5 linked regions of the Homo sapiens genome follow. The protein of the gene in region 4 purifies or fractionates together with the protein of the main gene of each other region. This does not show direct contact. Each region holds a gene or a part of one and is shown on either strand. Other genes may lie near its edges. The genes, in order: MTHFD1, RRP1B, HNRNPH3, NLE1 and SPAG7.

Region 1 (3,111 bases), on a different chromosome or scaffold from region 4:
CTGATTCCTCATGTCCTTCTGCAAACCAAATGCCAGCCTTCACTATCATCTTCCATGTGGTCACAAGCAGTAGCAGGAGGTGTTTCCACCTTCACCTTACAAGAATGAGTGCTGGGGAGTAGAGGAGTTGCTCACTCGCCTCCTCAGCTCACGCTTTGCAAGACCAAAAGGAGGTACAGGGCTTGCCTGCTTTTAAATTTTGTTTCGTTCAGTCTTGCTAGCTGAGCTGCCCATGTGATTTTTGCTTCAGCAACACGATGGTAGGAGTTAGTATCCTTTAACTTGGGCCAAGACACTTTTGTACATAATCTAGATGGTTTTATAATCACCATTCTTACTGGCCCAAAATGGCCTTCTAAAACTAAACTTGTAATGCTTACAAATTATATTTGTACTCACTACTTTTCTAAAGACTCGGCTTTGACAAATTTCTACTTAGATGCAAATATGTACGGCTTGCAAGTGAAAACTCCGTATATTTTTATCTGTAACAATGTCCTATATAATGAATACACACAAGTTCCAAATCAAATCTAGACAGGAAAACAGCTTAGGTTACTTCTAAAACTTAACTATAAAAAGGTTATTTAAAAAGAGTCATCTTCTGTAACACAAAACATCATCAATACTTTAGAAAACCTCATTCTGACTGACTTCTGAGTACCAATCAATATTCCCCAAAACACATTATAGGGATCTGACAACTGGTTTATATTCTTATATTGTGTAAGAGGTAAGGAGGTGCTAGGTGTGAGACAAGTAGGAGAGAGGAAAGGATGGGTCCTTAGACACAGCAGAAAAACCGGAAGATGACATTATAAAGATAAAAGACACATGCCCATTGTTGTAGACGGGCATGTGCATGTCAGCAGAAAACCCTAAAGATGGTTCCCTAAACAGTGATGAGTAGGATTTTTGATATTTTCACTCATTCCCCAAGAGGATTTTCCCTCCTAAACACTGGTCACTGATAATCAGAAAAAATACAAAAAAAGACAATATTATGTGTACGCACATGTATGAACCTAGATATAAAGTTCTGAAAATAAGCCATCACACTTTGAATTAATATAGAAAATATTCAAATAATCTGAGTCTCGTTAAGGCCCCAACGGCAACTGGAAGGTGTTAGAATAGTGATTAAACCATTTGATCATGTGTGGAAACGCCTTGGTCCAACTTAAAGTTAAAAGCCTCTGACACATACTTTGTTCTAAATGAGAAAGTCTTGAGTTCGGCAGGCTGTGTCTCTCTCCACCTTACAGCCTGACTCTCACTGGCCTGACTGCTTCCAGATTTGCTTTCACCTCTACTGTTACCCTTTTCTTCATGTGAAGATCAAAAGTGACAAGAAAGAGTACAGCTACCCGTCTTTCAGCTGGTAGCTGCTGACAACTTCTCCAAAAAGAACAACACATATTTCTGCACTATTCAAGGTGCTGGGTAAAAATGGTGGAAAATTCCTACCACAAGGGATTTCTACAAATCCTGGAGACTGATGTACATCATAGCAAGTCTAAGCCTTCTGCTCTCTATAGAGAGCTAAGGAGGCAGTGAGATGCAGGCATTTGTGCTAAGCACCACTGTGATGTGATGATGTTGCCTACAGTGTGAGCTGAGGGCAGCAGGGCTCTCACCTTTCATAATTTGCCCAAGGCCAAGATCTGAAGAGGTGAAAATGAATTCAGCTCTAATGTCCTACGTTTTCAACTCTATAATGCCACCTCCTACCACTTTCTTACTATACTGAAAGAATGACATAAATCCAAAAGGATGTATGTTGGTTTCTTTTCCATGTGTGTTGATTTAGTTTAATATTTCAGTCCTGTATTGCATGGCAGTACAATCTGTAGATACAGGATACAGGGCAGATTTAGGGGATAACCTAGATTCAGGATCCAAGTTAACCTTGGAACAATGTCAGCCCAAACTATGATTATGTCCTTAAGCATCCCTCCCCTCTGCTTCCCAACTGGCAATATTCTTCTTTGAATATGCATAAAATCTGTAAGATAAGAAAGCAATGGACACCTTGTTCACCTTGAAGCGTAAATAAGCAACCTCACCTTTCATATCTCAAGGGTCCATTTGCATTTTTTAATGGGGAAATTCCTTACTTAAAAATAATGAACCCCCTGAATTTCAGACGTAAGTTCTAGGCCTGTCAGTAAAACCTCTGTCCCTACCTCCTAGGGCTGTGGGGGGACTGAGTTAATCTATGTAAGGCTCCCAATAAACATTAACTGTGATTATGTTAGCACTACCCCAGCCTATCAACTGGGCTCATCCTAGATTCAGTGAAGAGCATACTGTCCCTGGGAAACAGAATTTTTTATTCAGTATGAGTAGTCCTGGCATCATTCTTGATTTGACACCAAGATGGTCCACAGCAAGAGCTATATAGCTCCTGCTTTATAGCTTATGATCCACAGCAATCATAATAGGCCCGATTCCAATTTTCTTCTGGGCAGTGAACTCTGCTCACTTGGCATTTGCTTGATGGTTTCGGCAACACACTTCAGACGAGAAGTGCAGATGCGCCCACTACTCCCTTGCAGCATGCACTTACCGTTCCTACTAAGGGGTACAGAAAACCAGCCCCAACGCTGGCGCGGATGTCGCGAATGGGCAGAATGAAGCCTGTAGGGACACCTTTTTGCTCTGGGTTGTGAGACAAAGACAAGTGTGTTTTAGCCATGCAGATGGGGAGATTCCCAAAGCCCTGGGGAAAGAAGGGAAGAGAGGGAGGACAAATGAAAAGATGACAACCCAGCAATGACCATCTGGGCCCTGTGATTACATGGATTCTTCAATTTATTCGAAACATCCAACTCCCTTTATATACATCTCTATCTTGCTGTCCTCCAGCTTATTTATTAAGCCAAAAAAAAAAAAAAAGAACTGTTGGGTGAGGGAGTTAGGTACTCACAACTGTAGTCCACAAGTGAATATTTTATTTCCATCTATGGAAATAACATAAAACTAATTTAAAATAATAGTTTGGAGTAGATATGAGAATAAAATTGGAGAGGGTCAGGTGCAGTGGTTCATGCCTATAAATTCCAGCACTTTGGGAGACTGAGATGGGTGGACTGCTTGAGCCCAGGAGTT
Region 2 (3,035 bases), on a different chromosome or scaffold from region 4:
TCAACCAAGACGCCCGCAGCCACTACAGAGGGGCCAGGACGCAGCAGCCTGCGGGCACTCTCAGAACCTCGTGCACACAACTTATGGGAACTTACAAAATCATAAAAAAGGCCCCACATTCTTAAAGGTATAATTTATAGCGCATTCTGTACAAAAGCAGTCTTTTACAAGGGACTCTGCTGCTCCTCAGAAGAAATCCATAGCCCTGGGCCTTCTCCTTGGTGTGGTGGTCAGGGGCTTCTTGGCCACCAGGGGTGAGCTGGCAGGTGAGCTGGTGGGGGTCTTCAGCACCCCGTGGAGGGGCTTCTGTTCAGGGTCGAAGGCCACTCGAGAAGGGCCCGTGGGACTGACCAAGATACTCTTGTCTGTCTTCTTGAATTCTGTCCCAAATGAGAGCAAGGCCCCATATTAAGTGGGTCCGACAGCTGTCCCTTCAACACCTTAGACAGCGTCCTGCCTGGGTGCCGACCCCACCCACTTGCTAGGACGAAGCAGGGCCATCTCAAGGCCCTGCAGAGAGCAGGCCCAAGAGCCTTCTGAGGAAAGGAGGGCAGTGAGGCCACATCCCATGCCTCAACTCACCCTCCCAAGGGAGGGCCCAGGGCTGCCTGCACAGACTAAGGGGAGCTGCTGGTAGGGTGGCTCCTGGAAGGGTGAACATTGGGGGTGGGGGTGTTTTGGACAATGAGTGAACCAGGCATTTGTGTCTGGGACAAATCTGTGCTATGTGGAGCTGCAGGATTCGTACTGTTCATTTTCTCCAGTTGTAAAGGCTGGGTGAGCTCCTCAGTCTCTCAGAGTCTCTTCTCCCTAAACATACACACTCACGCATGTGTGCATGCACACGCACACACACATATATACTGGTGCATGTACACACACTCACACATACACATACTCTCTATTACTTGCAGTTCCCAACAAGAGTCAGGTCCTAAATTCGTTATAATACTTTTTTTTTTTTTTTGAGATGGAGTCTCACCCAGCCTGTCACCCAGGCTGGAGTGCAGTGAAACGATCTTGGCTCACTGCAACCTCCATCTCCTGGGTTCAAGCAATTCTCCTGCCTCAGCCTCTCGAGCAGCTGAGACTACAGGTGCTTGCCACTACGCCCAGGTAATTTTTGTATTTTTAGTAGAGACGGGGTTTTACCATGTTGGCCAGGCTGGTCTCGAACTCCTGACCTCATGATCTGCCCACCTTGGCCTCCCAAAGTGTTGGGATTACAGGCATGAGCCACCGCGCCTGGCCTATACTACTTTTTAAAACTTTGGTTTCCTTTGTAAAAGCAACTCGAATGGATGGCACCAATATGAAAAGTAGGAAGATAGGGGTTACCCTTCTCTGTCGCCCAAGAAGCAAGTGGTTCCGAAGTTTCGCAGAGAGACAGCTACAGCTGATGGAGCACTACGATCTCAAATGGCCTCTCTATGGGACGGCTTTCAGTATTTAGAAAGACACTTGGGAAAACGGCTTTTTGGATCACGTCTCACCAGGTAGCTTCTCTTAACAGGTCCCAGGCAATTGGCTGCCCACTCACCACTGGCACCCCACTCACAGCCCTTTGAGGATGAGGGACAGACACATAGGTGCTTCCTTCTGACTCAGAAATGGGCAGTGAGGGGCCGGGCTCGGTGGCTCACGCTTGTAATCCCAGATCTTTGGGAGGCCGAGGCAGGCAGATCACCTGAGGTCAGGAGTTTGAGACCAGCCTGGCTGACATGGTGAAACTCCATCTTTACTAAAAATACAAAAATTAGCTGGATGTGATGGCGTGCACCTGTGATCCCAGCTACCCGCTACCCGGCAGCCTGAGGCAGGAGAATCGCTTGAACCTGGGGGGGCGGAGGTTGCAGTGAGCCAAGATCTCGCCACTGCACTGCAGCCTGGGTGACAGAGCAGCGAGACTCTGTCTCAAAAAAAAAAAAAAAATAAAAATAAAGAAATGGGCAGTGAGGAGCTAGGACCCCCCTCTTCCCCGACCGCCTTGTGGAACCAGGCTGCGAGCCGCGCCAGGAGCTGCAGCTGTGCTCCAGAGAAGCTTGCCGCTGGCAAAACCCCACTTACCGGCAGTCATGTTTCTGTTCAGCCCAAAGGTGACTTTCTTGGAGCTGGATGGTGTCTTGTTTAGCTGCAGAAGAGAAATAACAGGAACAAAAGGAGTGACGCAAGTGCAGTGGAGGCGCTTAGTCAGATTTTTCTGGAGAACCTGCCCTGGAGGGTATGCCGCCCACACTGCTGCTTACTGAGTGGCACATATAGGGAGAGGCCAAAGGGACTGCGGCCAAGACTGAAACCGACCCTCCTGTCGGGGCTTCACCAGGACCGCCCTTTGTCCTTCCCAGCGTCCCACACACGCAACCCCCCAGCCCAGGGTCAGTGGTGCCCACACTCTTGGCCCATCTGCGGTCACTGCCTCATTACCGCTGCAGGGTTCTACGATCCAGGGAAGAAAGGCAAACAGAGAGGATGCCTGAACTGTCCTAAAAACAGTTCACCACTGAGAACCCGTGAGGAAAAATGCCAAGACTCCCCTGCCTTTTGCTGGAGAGTTCTGAACTTCTAACTTGAAGACTCTATGACATCGATGAGACGATGCCTATGATGGAATCTCACTGCAATGGACAATGGACACACAGTTTCCAGCTTTTTGTGCACAAGGACTCTGAGCTATCTGCATATCCCAACAGTTCACCACAATCAACTATCTTCTTTCCTACTTACATTCCTGGAAGTGGATCCAGCCTGCATCAGGAAGCACTGCCTCAAGTTCCTGCTCTGACCCACATTTCTGTGTGGACCTCCTACTGCTGACTTGCACCACTTGTGTTTAACACTGTGACATTTCACGAGAGAAAACTGGTTTCTGCAAACCCTGAGCCGGAAGCCCTGGGAGGCAGAATGTGTGGATCAACCGCCCCTCAAAGTCCCCTTCCTGACTGTGATCCCTCAGGGTGGGTCCCAGACCACTCAGACCTTATGCTACCCTGGCCGTGGAACCTGTCCACTGTGGACAGGCTCAGAGGGCCACAGTG
Region 3 (4,125 bases), on a different chromosome or scaffold from region 4:
TGTGTGTGTGTGTGTGTGTATTTTTAGTAGAGACAGGGTTTCACCGTGTTAGCCAGGATGAACTTGCACTGATCTCTTTACCAGGCTTCCCCTTAACCCTCTGCGCAGAAATTCGGGGTTTTTCTTTGTGTTTGAGACAAGAGTCTCCCTCGGTCTCCCAGACTGGAGTGCACTGGCGCAATCACGGCTCACTGCAGCCTCAACTTCCAGGGCACAAGCCATCCTTTTGCCCAGCCTCCTGTGTAGCTGGGACTACTCGGGAGTCCCATCTACTCCCGTGCGCTGCCATCACGCCCAGCTAATCTTTGTATTTTTTGTAGAGACAGCACCTCACTATGTTGCCCAGGCTGGTCTCCAACTCTTACGCTCAAGCGATCCTCCCCCTCGGCCTCTCAAAGGCGTAAGCCACCGCGGCCAGCCTTTTTTGGAACTTAAAAAAAAAGCCATAATGTGTCATTAGGAACCTTGGTGACATGACAGCAAAACCAAAATGTACTTATTTATTAGGTGTCACTTGGAAGCGCAATTTTCAACAACGCAAAACTATAAAAAAAACCCAACGTCGGCCTCCACAGGCTAATCAGTCTCCGAGGCACTGACGGCGGGAGAGATGAAAACGCGAAGGCCAGAGGAGAAAAAGAGGAAGGATTTGCAGAGAGAACGGTAACGTGGTGGACATGAATACACCCAAGAAACCCGGATCCCGCGCGGCACATTGGGACGAAGCGCGCTGGCGGGCGGCCAGCAACTCTGGGCCAGGGGAAGGAGGCGGACACCCAGCCCGAGAGCCGAAATCGGCCCCAGTGGACGCTTTCATCTTCGCGGCCCAGAAACACTCCTATTTTTCACCGCACAATGCAAACATGGTGGACCAGAAAATCCGCCCCGCGTTTGCCGGTCGAACCACGTGGGGCCCTTTCCGCGCCGTCGATGCCTAGCCAGGGCGGGGCCCTCACAGAATTTGTTCACGGTGGGGGCAGATCACCGGAGAACTTCTCCAGAGCGCTACGGCACGGTTCCTTCTACACACTGGCAGAACTGCCATTGCCATCGCCCCGAGGCGGCAGAATGGTACGCTCTGAAAACTGGATGGTTCTAACGTAAGCAAGAAAAACGGTGCGCGCTGCAGCTCTTTAACTGGAACAGCCTCTGCTCGGTCTACCTCGCCCCCAACAGCTGCGCAACCCACCACCGCGCAGGCGCGCTGCGTGCCGCCAGCGCCATGCGAAACCGACTTTCCCGTCTCGCGAGAGTGGGGCCGGCCGCCTTCGCAGTTCTCGCTCCGCCCCCCACTTCTTGCTCGTTCCCTCCCATCCCCCCAAGCCAGTAGCTGTGCTGCGCAGCTCCCTAAGCGGTTGTCACCGCTGGAGACGGTTGGGAGAACCGTTGTGGCGAGCGCTACACGAGGCAAACGACTTCTCCCTTCTTTGAACTGGACCCCGCGAGCACCAGAGTCGGCGTAACTATCGCCTGACAGGGTATCTGAAGTAAAAGGGGGTAGGTTGGGCTGGTGGTTTCGAGAGCGGAGTCGGGAGAAGGACGAAAGGCCGGGAGGGGCTGGGTTGGGGGGTAGTGGGGTGGTCGCCGCTCGGAGGCCGCCGCTTGGAAGCGGCGGGGCTGCGCCTCCCCGACCATCTCCCACTTCAGGGAGGGCGGCTTGCCGATGGGAGGACTTGCTCAGGTGGAATTCAGTGGACGACGCCGAGGCCCGAAGTAGGGGACATCCAGCATTTTCCCCTTTCCCTGCTGGCTTGGCCTCCGCCATTTTGGGTACAGTGGCGCGGCCACCTCGGCTTCCCGCCCTTCCCCGCTCTTTTTACTTTTTTGTTCCCCAGCTTCCGAAAACTGATCTAGAAGGCCAGGGGAGGGGGTGGTCAAAGCTCCCTGGAAGGGATGAGGGTGGGTAGTGAAGCGAGCAGGGAAAGGCCGGGCAGTTGGGTGGAGGGAGGATCGGGTTTGCCGGGCGCGCTCCCGATGGAAATGGCGCCGGATGGGCCTGGCCTCCCACCGCGGCCTCCCTTCCTCCGCAGTCTCGGCAGGGCTACCTGGGCTGACGGGACTGCGAGTGACTTCTGACGCAGATTCCCAAGATGAGAGAGGCTGGAGCTGGGGGAGGAAAGCCAATGGCGACGAAGGTGCTCAACTCCCAAATCCAGGACAAAGGAGGCAGACGGCCTCCTTTGTAATTCTGCCGCCCGGTGGCGAAGGGTTTTAAGCCAGGCTTGGCTGCTGACGGGAGGGGGAAGGGGCGTACTCTCCCTAGCTTTCTGGTCTCTAGGGCAGCTAGATAAACGGAAAGTCTCCTGGGAGGAATAAAGGACGCTTAGCCGGCCCTTATATTCCAGATTTGGAACTTCGAAAAGAGTACGTACTGATTTTCCAAAGGGTTTTTTTTTTTTCATGTTTAAACGTTAATAAGGACTTCGGGGATGATTTTGTGAGCAGAAAAGTGGGTGATTTATCAAATAGGAATGTGAAATGGGCATGTTTCAAGTAGGTCGTCTGGGCCCAGTGAACTATAATTGTTGCTTTTTGAACTTTCGGGGTGGGGGTGGGTGATGTAGCAATTGTTTTGCGTAGTTTGGCGTATATATGTTAGAATTTGTTTTTAAGTTTTACTTTTGGGAAACAGTTAAAACAACCCAGTGATGGTAGATGTGTGTGTATTGAAATTGAGCTTTCGATGTTAAATCTTCCAAGAGTTGTATTTTGTGCAGTTTTTTTTTCCGATGGCATTAAGGCTCTAGAAGTAAAATACTTCAAAATACGGTTATGGTTTATTTTCTTTTGGTAGCTAGGCATGTTTTTTCTTTAGTGTAGGAGTATAGTACACTGTAATCGTATTTTAAACAAGGGAATAAGCCTACTAAACATAAAAACAAATTGTAAACCCAGTCACGTGGTGGTGGTGTGATTCGGATGAGGGTCCTGAGAACTGGATCCGTAATTTTCATTGAAGACAGTACAAAAGGGAGGAGAAAGGCCTGAGAGTAAGAATTTCTGATAATTCATGTAAAACTTTATAAGAATATTGTTACCTACTTTTCCAGCTCTAAAAACAAAAACTTATTATTATTGAAGATGTTCAGTGATGCTTTCTCAAGATTGCCAAGGAAAAGTTTACGAAAATCTTACCTTGAAACAGTAGGTTTGAGTGACCCTTTGAAGAGATAGTCCAGACTGTCCTGTAAAGTTATATATGATATAACAAATAGCTTTACTAATTGGATTGGACTACACATCTTTTTTCTGTCCTCTTTTCATTTGTGCCGTTATCTGGAAATCCATCTAATTGCCTTTTTAAAATAATGTTATCTTTGATTTCCTTGTTTTGGTAAACTGACTGAACTGCAGTAGATAAAAACCTGGTTCTAGTGAACTAACATTTTAGAGACCTTACCTCCTTAAGCTATTAGGGGTGTGTCTAGTTTTTTGTTTTTGTAAAGAGCAAGCCCATTGGGAAGGAATGATGTAAATTTTCTGTTAAACTTAAATCATCAGCACTTTTTCCAAAAAATAAAATTCATTCTCATTTCTTGACCACTGGGCTACCATTTAGAAAGTTATTTATTGATGTAAAATCCTTTATGTATTACTTCAGAAGATAGGCTATGCCTCCGTGTTAAGAGGATTCTCTATTTCATTTGTTCTTTAGTGGATTTTTTTTCTTTAACGACTTTGGTATATAATTCACATACCGTAAACTTCACCAATTTTAAATGTACAGTTTAGTGGATTTTAGTACATTCACAGCGTTGTGTGACCGTCACTACAATTTAATTTTAGAACATTTTTGTCACTCCAAAAAGATATCCATACCCTTTACTGGTCATTCCCATTGCTGGCATCCTCCCTCCCCTCAAGCCTCAGACAATCATGAATAGAAATGGAATCATGCAATATGTAGTCTTTTGTGACTGGCTTGTTTCACTTGGTGTAATGTTTAGAAAATTATACTTAAAGTCTCATAAAACTTGACCAAAGCTATCCTCATATTTTAACTGTGGTATCTTTTATTGGTACTAGCACCTAGAATTCTTAAAGCAGAGTAGTGATTAGCCATGACATTGTTGCAAAGAAAGGTTGAGGTGGATTATCCTGAATAATTAGTAAACTGTTTTAAGT
Region 4 (3,525 bases):
TCTCTGGAAGGTGATTCAGGATACTGGTGGCACTGGATGCTACAATAGAGACGGGAGACTCCGCGATCTACCTTTTGTATTTTTTGAACGTGAATGTGTGAACAATCTTAAACAACAAATTAAAGTAAAAAAGAAGCATGTTGGAAATGTAATAAATAGACAAGCAAATAAACTAAACAAAAAACGAAATAAAATGATCTCTAGCACATTAGTATTTTAGGATTGCAAACTAGGATTATGAAGAACAACTTTTTGGAATAGGTACATTCTGAGCTGGGTCTAGAAGGGAGAAGGGTCTGAGAGGGTTTTAGTGATTGGCTAAGGACTGGTACAGAGCTAGGGGTGCACGTGGCTGGCACACACTCACCCGCACGAGGTTGTATCGGCTCAGAGCCCTCTCCTTCAACTCCTGCACTGTGACCAGGTACCGGAGGGGAGAAAAGGAGATGAGGAAGAAGGCCGATAAGAAAATCCAACACAAAGAGCAAACACTCCCCATTAAGCTTGAGAACTGGCTCCTTCCCAATCAGCCCCCGCTCTTCCTTCTCCCAATCACTCACAGGATCCTTGGAGGTCTTGGGGATTAACTGAGGCCTCAGCAGGTTCAAAGGCCCCAGTGCGCAGGGCATAGTCAGTGCTGAGGGCCATGGTGTTCACCCAGTGGCCGTGGCCTTGCAGAGTCCGGCACAGCACACCCTACGGGAGAGCGAGTCAGGTCAGACACACACACTCCTCCCCACGCCTGGGCGATTAGCCCCAGGAGACAGGTGGTACAAGACTAATAATCATCATCACTCATGCATTGTGATCTTAATCAAACTACCCCTCTGGGGTCAAGTCTCTCCCCACTTGTAAAATGGAGTCCAGATCATGAAAATGTTTCATGGAAGAGGAGTTAGGGATGTCAGAGTAAACGGCTCCTGTCCAATACATTTGGGATATGGTAGATCTGATAAAGCCCAACAGCTGTCCTACAGGAGGAATTTCCAGAGTGTGACGATCTCATGGGGACTCTGCAATCTCCACTATGGTGCAGCACCAACCACAGAACTCCTCATTCCCAAAACACCTCCCTAGACCAGGGCTCCCAGCACACATCTGGGAAACACTGGACTCGCTGATGTCAAGGTCATTCTGAGTGCCAGCATCTTGTGACTTGCGATTTTCTGGACTGGTTTCTGAACCCTCCCAGCACTTACGTCATGAGCTCTCCAGACTTTGATGGTGCGGTCCTGGGAGGCAGAGTAGAGAAGCCCGTCCCCTCCCCACCGGAGACAGGTGACCGACTGGGTGTGCCCGGTGAGGATGCGCTCACAGCGGCCTGCAGTTGTGTCCCAGATCCGCACACTGCCATCCTTGGAGCTGCTGGCCACATAGCGGCACTCAGGGTTCCTGGAGAGAAGGGAGATGTGACCTCATCTGTGACCTGGCAACATCTGTGTGCCCATGGCACCTCCCCATTCCCAACTTAAAGGCCATGGACAATCTTTTGACAGCTTTTCTGACACCAAGACCCGGCTGCACTGCAAGGTGACTGCAACCAGCAGACCCTGTGATGAGAGCCTCTCCCAAGCAGCAATGCAGGTCTGCCCGAGACCCTTCTCCCATGCCTGCCAAGCCATCACGGTCATTCAGGCTGCCCATCTTGTCCCCTCACGTAAAACTTCTATGCATTGGGCAGGGAAAGGGGATGGCTTTGATCCCCTGGCTCATTTGTCCCAGCTCCGTCAGTGTCACTTACGCATGGAGGGGCTCCCAGCTCAGGCCTGTGATCCACTTGCTGTGGCCAGCGAGGGTCCTGCCCACCTGCTTCCCTGTGCTTGGGTCCCAGAGGAGAATCTGAAGGACAGAAGCTCACTGAATAATCCTCCCCAACAGGTCTCTGGCTCCACCAAAATCCCTGCCTACCACTTCCCACCCAACCCTCCCCAAAGACTCCTGAACCTGATTCTGAACTGTCTCCTAGGAAGGCCCCCTTGAGTCTCTGCCTAGTTACCCTGAGAACTACCTACCTGGCCATTCTTGCAGCCTGAGGCCAGCTTCCTGCCATCTGGAGACCAGGATATACTAAGGACCCAGTGTCTGTGTCCTAAGAAAGCAGAGGAGGGAGAAATAAGGGACTACATCTGTCTTTATCCCAAGTGCCCAGCAGTGCCTGTCAGGTGCCAGGTACTCCTTAACCATTTGAATAAATGAATGATTGAACAAAAGGAGCGATGAGGCTTTCTGGGGATGGATAGAATGCACCCCAAGTGTTAGAGCTCTGCATCTTGCTGCATGGATAACACCATCACTCTCTAATGACTCCTTATGTGACACATGCTATGAAGTGTTTTTGTACATGTCATCCCTTGTTATTTCTCACAAGAGCTCTAAGCTATGGAGCAAAGCAAGAATTATCATCCCCATTTTCCAGATGAGAAAATTGAAGCTTAGAAAGGGAACATGCCCTACACACACAAGGTCACTTAACTAATCTGTGGTATAGCAGTGGTTCTTCAAGTGTGGTCGTCAGAGCAGCAGCATCAGCATCTCCTGGGAACTTGTTAGAAATGCAGATTCCCAGGCCCTACCCCAGGCCCAATAGAACTAAACCTCTGGGGGTGGGGCCCAGCAATCTGTATTTTTTTCTCTCTTCTCTTTTCTCTCTCTCTCTTTCTTTCATGGAGTCACACTCCATCACCCAGGCTGGAGTGCAGTGGTGCCATCTCGGCTCACTGCAACCTCCGCCTCCTAGATTCGAGCAATTCTTCTGCCTCAGCCTCCCCAGTGGCTGGGATTACAAGCACACGCCACCATGCCCGGCTAATTTTTGTAGTTTTAGTAGAGATGGGGTTTCACTGTGTTGGCGAGGCTGGTCTCAAACTCCTGACCTCAAGTGATCTGCCTGCCTTGGCCTCCCGAAGTGCTGGGATTACAGGTGTGGGCCACCACGCCTGGCCAGCAATCTGCATTTTAACAAGCCCCTGAGGCGGGGCAATTCTGATTTGTGCTCAAGTTTGAAAACCACTGTGGCAGAGGCAGGATTTAAACCAGGTTCTCCTTGGTAGCAGTCAGTCAGCCTCTCACCATGTCCCATATTGACTCCTTGGTGCAGTTTCTGCTTGTGTCTAAGTGGCTGGCTGGGCTCAAGGACATGGTCTCTACCTAGGAACAGACAGCCGCCAACTGGATATTAAGGGGTTGTAATCTGCAAAGTGAGACCCTCATCTGTATGAAAACAAAAAACGAGCCAGGTGTGATGGCAAGTGCCTGTCATCCCAGCTACTCTGGAGGCTGAAGTAGGGGGACTGCTTGAACCCAGGAGTTCAAGGCTTGAGCCCAGGAGTTCAAGTGAGCTGTGACTGCACCACTGTACTCCATCCTGGTCAACAGAGCAAGACCTTGTCTCAAAAAAAAAGAAGACCCCCTAAATGGCTAATTGCATACTGACCCTTGCATGTGAAATGTGGTGTCTCTGTGCTGAGATCCCAGAAGCGCACGGTGGTGTCTCCAGAGCCACTGGCCAGGTACCTGGGGAAGAAG
Region 5 (3,071 bases), about 30 Mb from region 4:
CAAAAAAAAAAAAAAAAAAAAGAGATTAAGAATAACAATAATACAATAGAACAATTATAACAATGTACTGAAATAAAAGTTTGTGGCTATGCTCTCTCTCTCTCTCAAAATATCTTACTGTATATAACAGTTCTGGACTGCAGGTAACTAAAACCTTGGAAAGCAAAACCTTGGATAAGGGAGAAGTAGGGACTACTGTATCTGGCACCAGGCGAGACCCTGAAGTACTGAGATTATTAAGACACAATGTGGCCCTTCAAGAGCTCCCAGTTTAGTGGGAGTGACAAAGATCAGAATAATGCTTAACCCCCTTTCCCAACTCCACTGGGGAAACCAATTAACAAATATCTATTTATTTATTTATTTTTGAGATGGAGTTTCACTCTGTCACCCAGGCTGGAGTGCAGTGGCATGAGCTCAGCTCACTGCAAACTCCGTCTCCCAGGTTCAAGCGATTCTCCTGCCTCAGCCTCCCAAGTAGCTGGGATTACAGGCATGTGCCACCACACCCGGCTAATTTTTGTATTTTTAGTAGAGATGGGGTTTCACCATGTTGGCCAGGCTGGTCTTGAACTCCTGAGCTCAAGTGATCCCCCCGCCTCACCTTCCCAAAAGTGCTGGAATTATAGGCGTGAGCCACTGCACCCGGCCTATTTATTTTTGGGACAGGATATCACTTTATTGCCTAGGCTGGCGTGCAGTGGCACAATCACAGCTCACTGCAGCCTTGACCTCCCTGGCTCAAGGGATCCTCCTACCTTAGCTTCTCAAGTAGCTGGGACCACAGGCGTGTGCCACCATGCTCAGCTACTGTTTAAAAAATAATTAAAAATATTTGTGAGATGAGGTCTCACTATGTTGCCCAGGATGGTATTTTTATTTTATTTTATTTTTATTTTTGAGACGGAGTCTCACTCTGTCACCCAGGCTGGGTGCAATTAGCACCCAGCTAATTTTTGTATTTTTATTAGAGACGGGGTTTCACTATGTTGGTCAGGTTGGTCTCGAACTCCTGACCTCGTGATCCGCCCGCCTCAGCCTCCCAAAGTGCTAGGATTACAAGTGTGGGCCCAGGCTGGTCTCGAACTCGGCTTCAAATAACCCTCCCACCTGGGCCTCTCAAATTGCTTGAAAGCCTTGAGCCTCTGCACCCAGCCTTGGCTAATTTTTTTTTTTTTAAGTTTTCTGTTAAGATGGGGTCTCAGTTTGTTGCCCATCCTGGTCTCCAGTTGGCCTCAAGTAATCCTCCCACCTTGACCTTCCAAAGTGCTGGGATTATAGGTGTGAACCACCATGCCTGGACTATAGTTAGTTCTTTGTACATTGTGGGCATTAAATAAATGTTTGGGCTGAGCGTGGTGGCTTACGTGTGTAATCCCAGTACTTTGGAAGGCCAAGGTGGGAGGACTGCTTGAGGCCAGGAGCTCCAGACCAGTGCAGGCAATATAGTGAGACCCTGTCTCTATAAAAAATAAAGAATTAGGCATGATGATGCATGCCTGTAGTCCCAGCTACTCGGGAGGCTGAGGTAGGAAGATCACTTGAGCCTGAGAGGTCTAGGTGACAGAGCAAGACCCTGTCAAAAACAAAAACAAAAACAAACCATAATGCATCTGGGAAGGTGAGGAAAACAGACTAAGACCCTGGCCTCAAAGAGTCTGTCATCTCGTTTACACAGGAAAGGGGAATTTTTTTTTTTTTTTTTTTTTTTTTGAGATGGAATCTCGCTTTGTCGCCCAGGCTGGAGTGCAGTGGCACGATCTTGGCTCACTGCAACCTCCGCCTCCTGGGTTCAAGCGATTCTTCTGCCTCAGCCTCCTGAGTAGCTGGGACTATAGGCATGTGCCACCACGCCCAGCTAATTTTTGTATTTTTAGTAGAGATGGGGTTTCACCATATTGGCCAGGCTGGTCTCGAACTCCTGACCTTGTGATCCACCTGCCTCGGCCTCCCAAAGTGCCAGGATTACAGGCTTGAGCCACCGTGCCCAGCTGGAAAGGGGAAATTATTTAACTTTCTATATTTTGTAAAATCCCCCACTTCCCACTTCTATAGACAGGATGAAGCTGAAATAGATAATCTGACACCCTTCTCCTTTGGGAGTGTAGGTGTCCAAGGTTAGCTGTGAAGGGTCTTCTTTTTCTGAACTCTTGGGCTCAAGGTATCTGCCTGCCTCTTGCCTGAAGATGCCCGAGACCCCATCTTTACAGAAAACTTTTTTTAAAAAAATTAGCCAGGTCTGGGTGCAGAGACTCAAGCTTCTCAAGCAATTTGAGAGGCCGAGGTGGGAGGATCACTTGAGGCTGGGAGTTCAAGACCAGCCTCCCAAAGTGCTGGGATTTCAGCTGTGAGTCCCCTCGCCTGGCTAAGGGTCTTATTTAACTTTCTTCCTCTTCCTTAGATCCTGCCTCTGCGCCAGATCCCCTCTGCCTCTGGAGGAGGAGGAAGAATTTCTAACCCGGGCCCTCCATGCTTGCCTGTCTTCCCCACGATGTGATTTTACTACCTCTAGAGATTTGGGTGCATGCTTCTTCCTACTCCTGCTCCTCAGCCTGAAATTTTTTTCTCTTTTGCCATTTCAAATCCTTTACATCTTTTTTTTTTTTTTTTTTTTTTGAGACGGAGTCTCGCTCTGTCGCCCAGGCTGGAGTGCAGTGGCGCAATCTCCGCTCACTGCAAGCTCCGCCTCCCGGGTTCACGCCATTCTCCTGCCTCAGCCTCCCAAGTAGCTGGGACTACAGGCGCCCGCCACCACGCCTGGAGAATTTTTTGTATTTTTAGTGGAGACAAGGTTTCACCGTTTTAGCCAGGATGGTCTTGATCTCCTGACCTCATGATCCACCCGCCTCGGCCTCCCAAAGTGCTGGGATTATAGGCGTGAGCCACCGCACCCGGCCAAATCCTTTACATCTTTAAGGCCTCCTTCTTCCCCAGGATCTGAATCCTCTCCAGCTGCACTGAACCTCTCCCCATCATTTATTTATTTATTTCGAGACAGAGTCTCGCTGTGTGCCCAGGCTGGAGTGCAGTGGCGCGATCTCGGCTCACTGCAACCTCTGCCTCCCGGGTTC

What was found.
Region 1: the proteins of NLE1 (region 4) and MTHFD1 fractionate together in Homo sapiens (co-fractionation; one large-scale study listed by BioGRID). This does not show direct contact.
Region 2: the proteins of NLE1 (region 4) and RRP1B purify together in Homo sapiens (co-immunoprecipitation; one large-scale study listed by IntAct). This does not show direct contact.
Region 3: the proteins of NLE1 (region 4) and HNRNPH3 fractionate together in Homo sapiens (co-fractionation; one large-scale study listed by BioGRID). This does not show direct contact.
Region 5: the proteins of NLE1 (region 4) and SPAG7 fractionate together in Homo sapiens (co-fractionation; one large-scale study listed by BioGRID). This does not show direct contact.

The regions. Positions count from the first base shown.
Region 1 is NC_000014.9:64,454,334-64,457,444, reverse strand, and holds part of MTHFD1 (C-1-tetrahydrofolate synthase, cytoplasmic), read right to left. Parts: intron 2,723-3,111; coding exon 2,570-2,722; intron 1-2,569. UniProt on the Homo sapiens protein: Trifunctional enzyme that catalyzes the interconversion of three forms of one-carbon-substituted tetrahydrofolate: (6R)-5,10-methylene-5,6,7,8-tetrahydrofolate, 5,10-methenyltetrahydrofolate and (6S)-10-formyltetrahydrofolate.
Region 2 is NC_000021.9:43,690,535-43,693,569, reverse strand, and holds part of RRP1B (ribosomal RNA processing protein 1 homolog B), read right to left. Parts: intron 2,132-3,035; coding exon 2,068-2,131; intron 381-2,067; coding exon 187-380; 3' UTR 1-186. UniProt on the Homo sapiens protein: Positively regulates DNA damage-induced apoptosis by acting as a transcriptional coactivator of proapoptotic target genes of the transcriptional activator E2F1.
Region 3 is NC_000010.11:68,330,739-68,334,863, forward strand, and holds the start of HNRNPH3 (heterogeneous nuclear ribonucleoprotein H3), read left to right. Parts: upstream 1-1,325; 5' UTR 1,326-1,478; exon of another isoform or gene 1,479-1,497; intron 1,498-2,045; exon of another isoform or gene 2,046-2,364; intron 2,365-4,125.
Region 4 is NC_000017.11:35,135,802-35,139,326, forward strand, and holds part of NLE1 (notchless protein homolog 1), read right to left. Parts: intron 3,514-3,525; coding exon 3,434-3,513; intron 2,090-3,433; coding exon 2,013-2,089; intron 1,840-2,012; coding exon 1,742-1,839; intron 1,393-1,741; coding exon 1,200-1,392; intron 697-1,199; coding exon 561-696; intron 415-560; coding exon 368-414; intron 1-367. UniProt on the Homo sapiens protein: Plays a role in regulating Notch activity. Plays a role in regulating the expression of CDKN1A and several members of the Wnt pathway, probably via its effects on Notch activity. Required during embryogenesis for inner mass cell survival.
Region 5 is NC_000017.11:4,961,764-4,964,834, forward strand, and holds part of SPAG7 (sperm-associated antigen 7), read right to left. Parts: intron 1-3,071.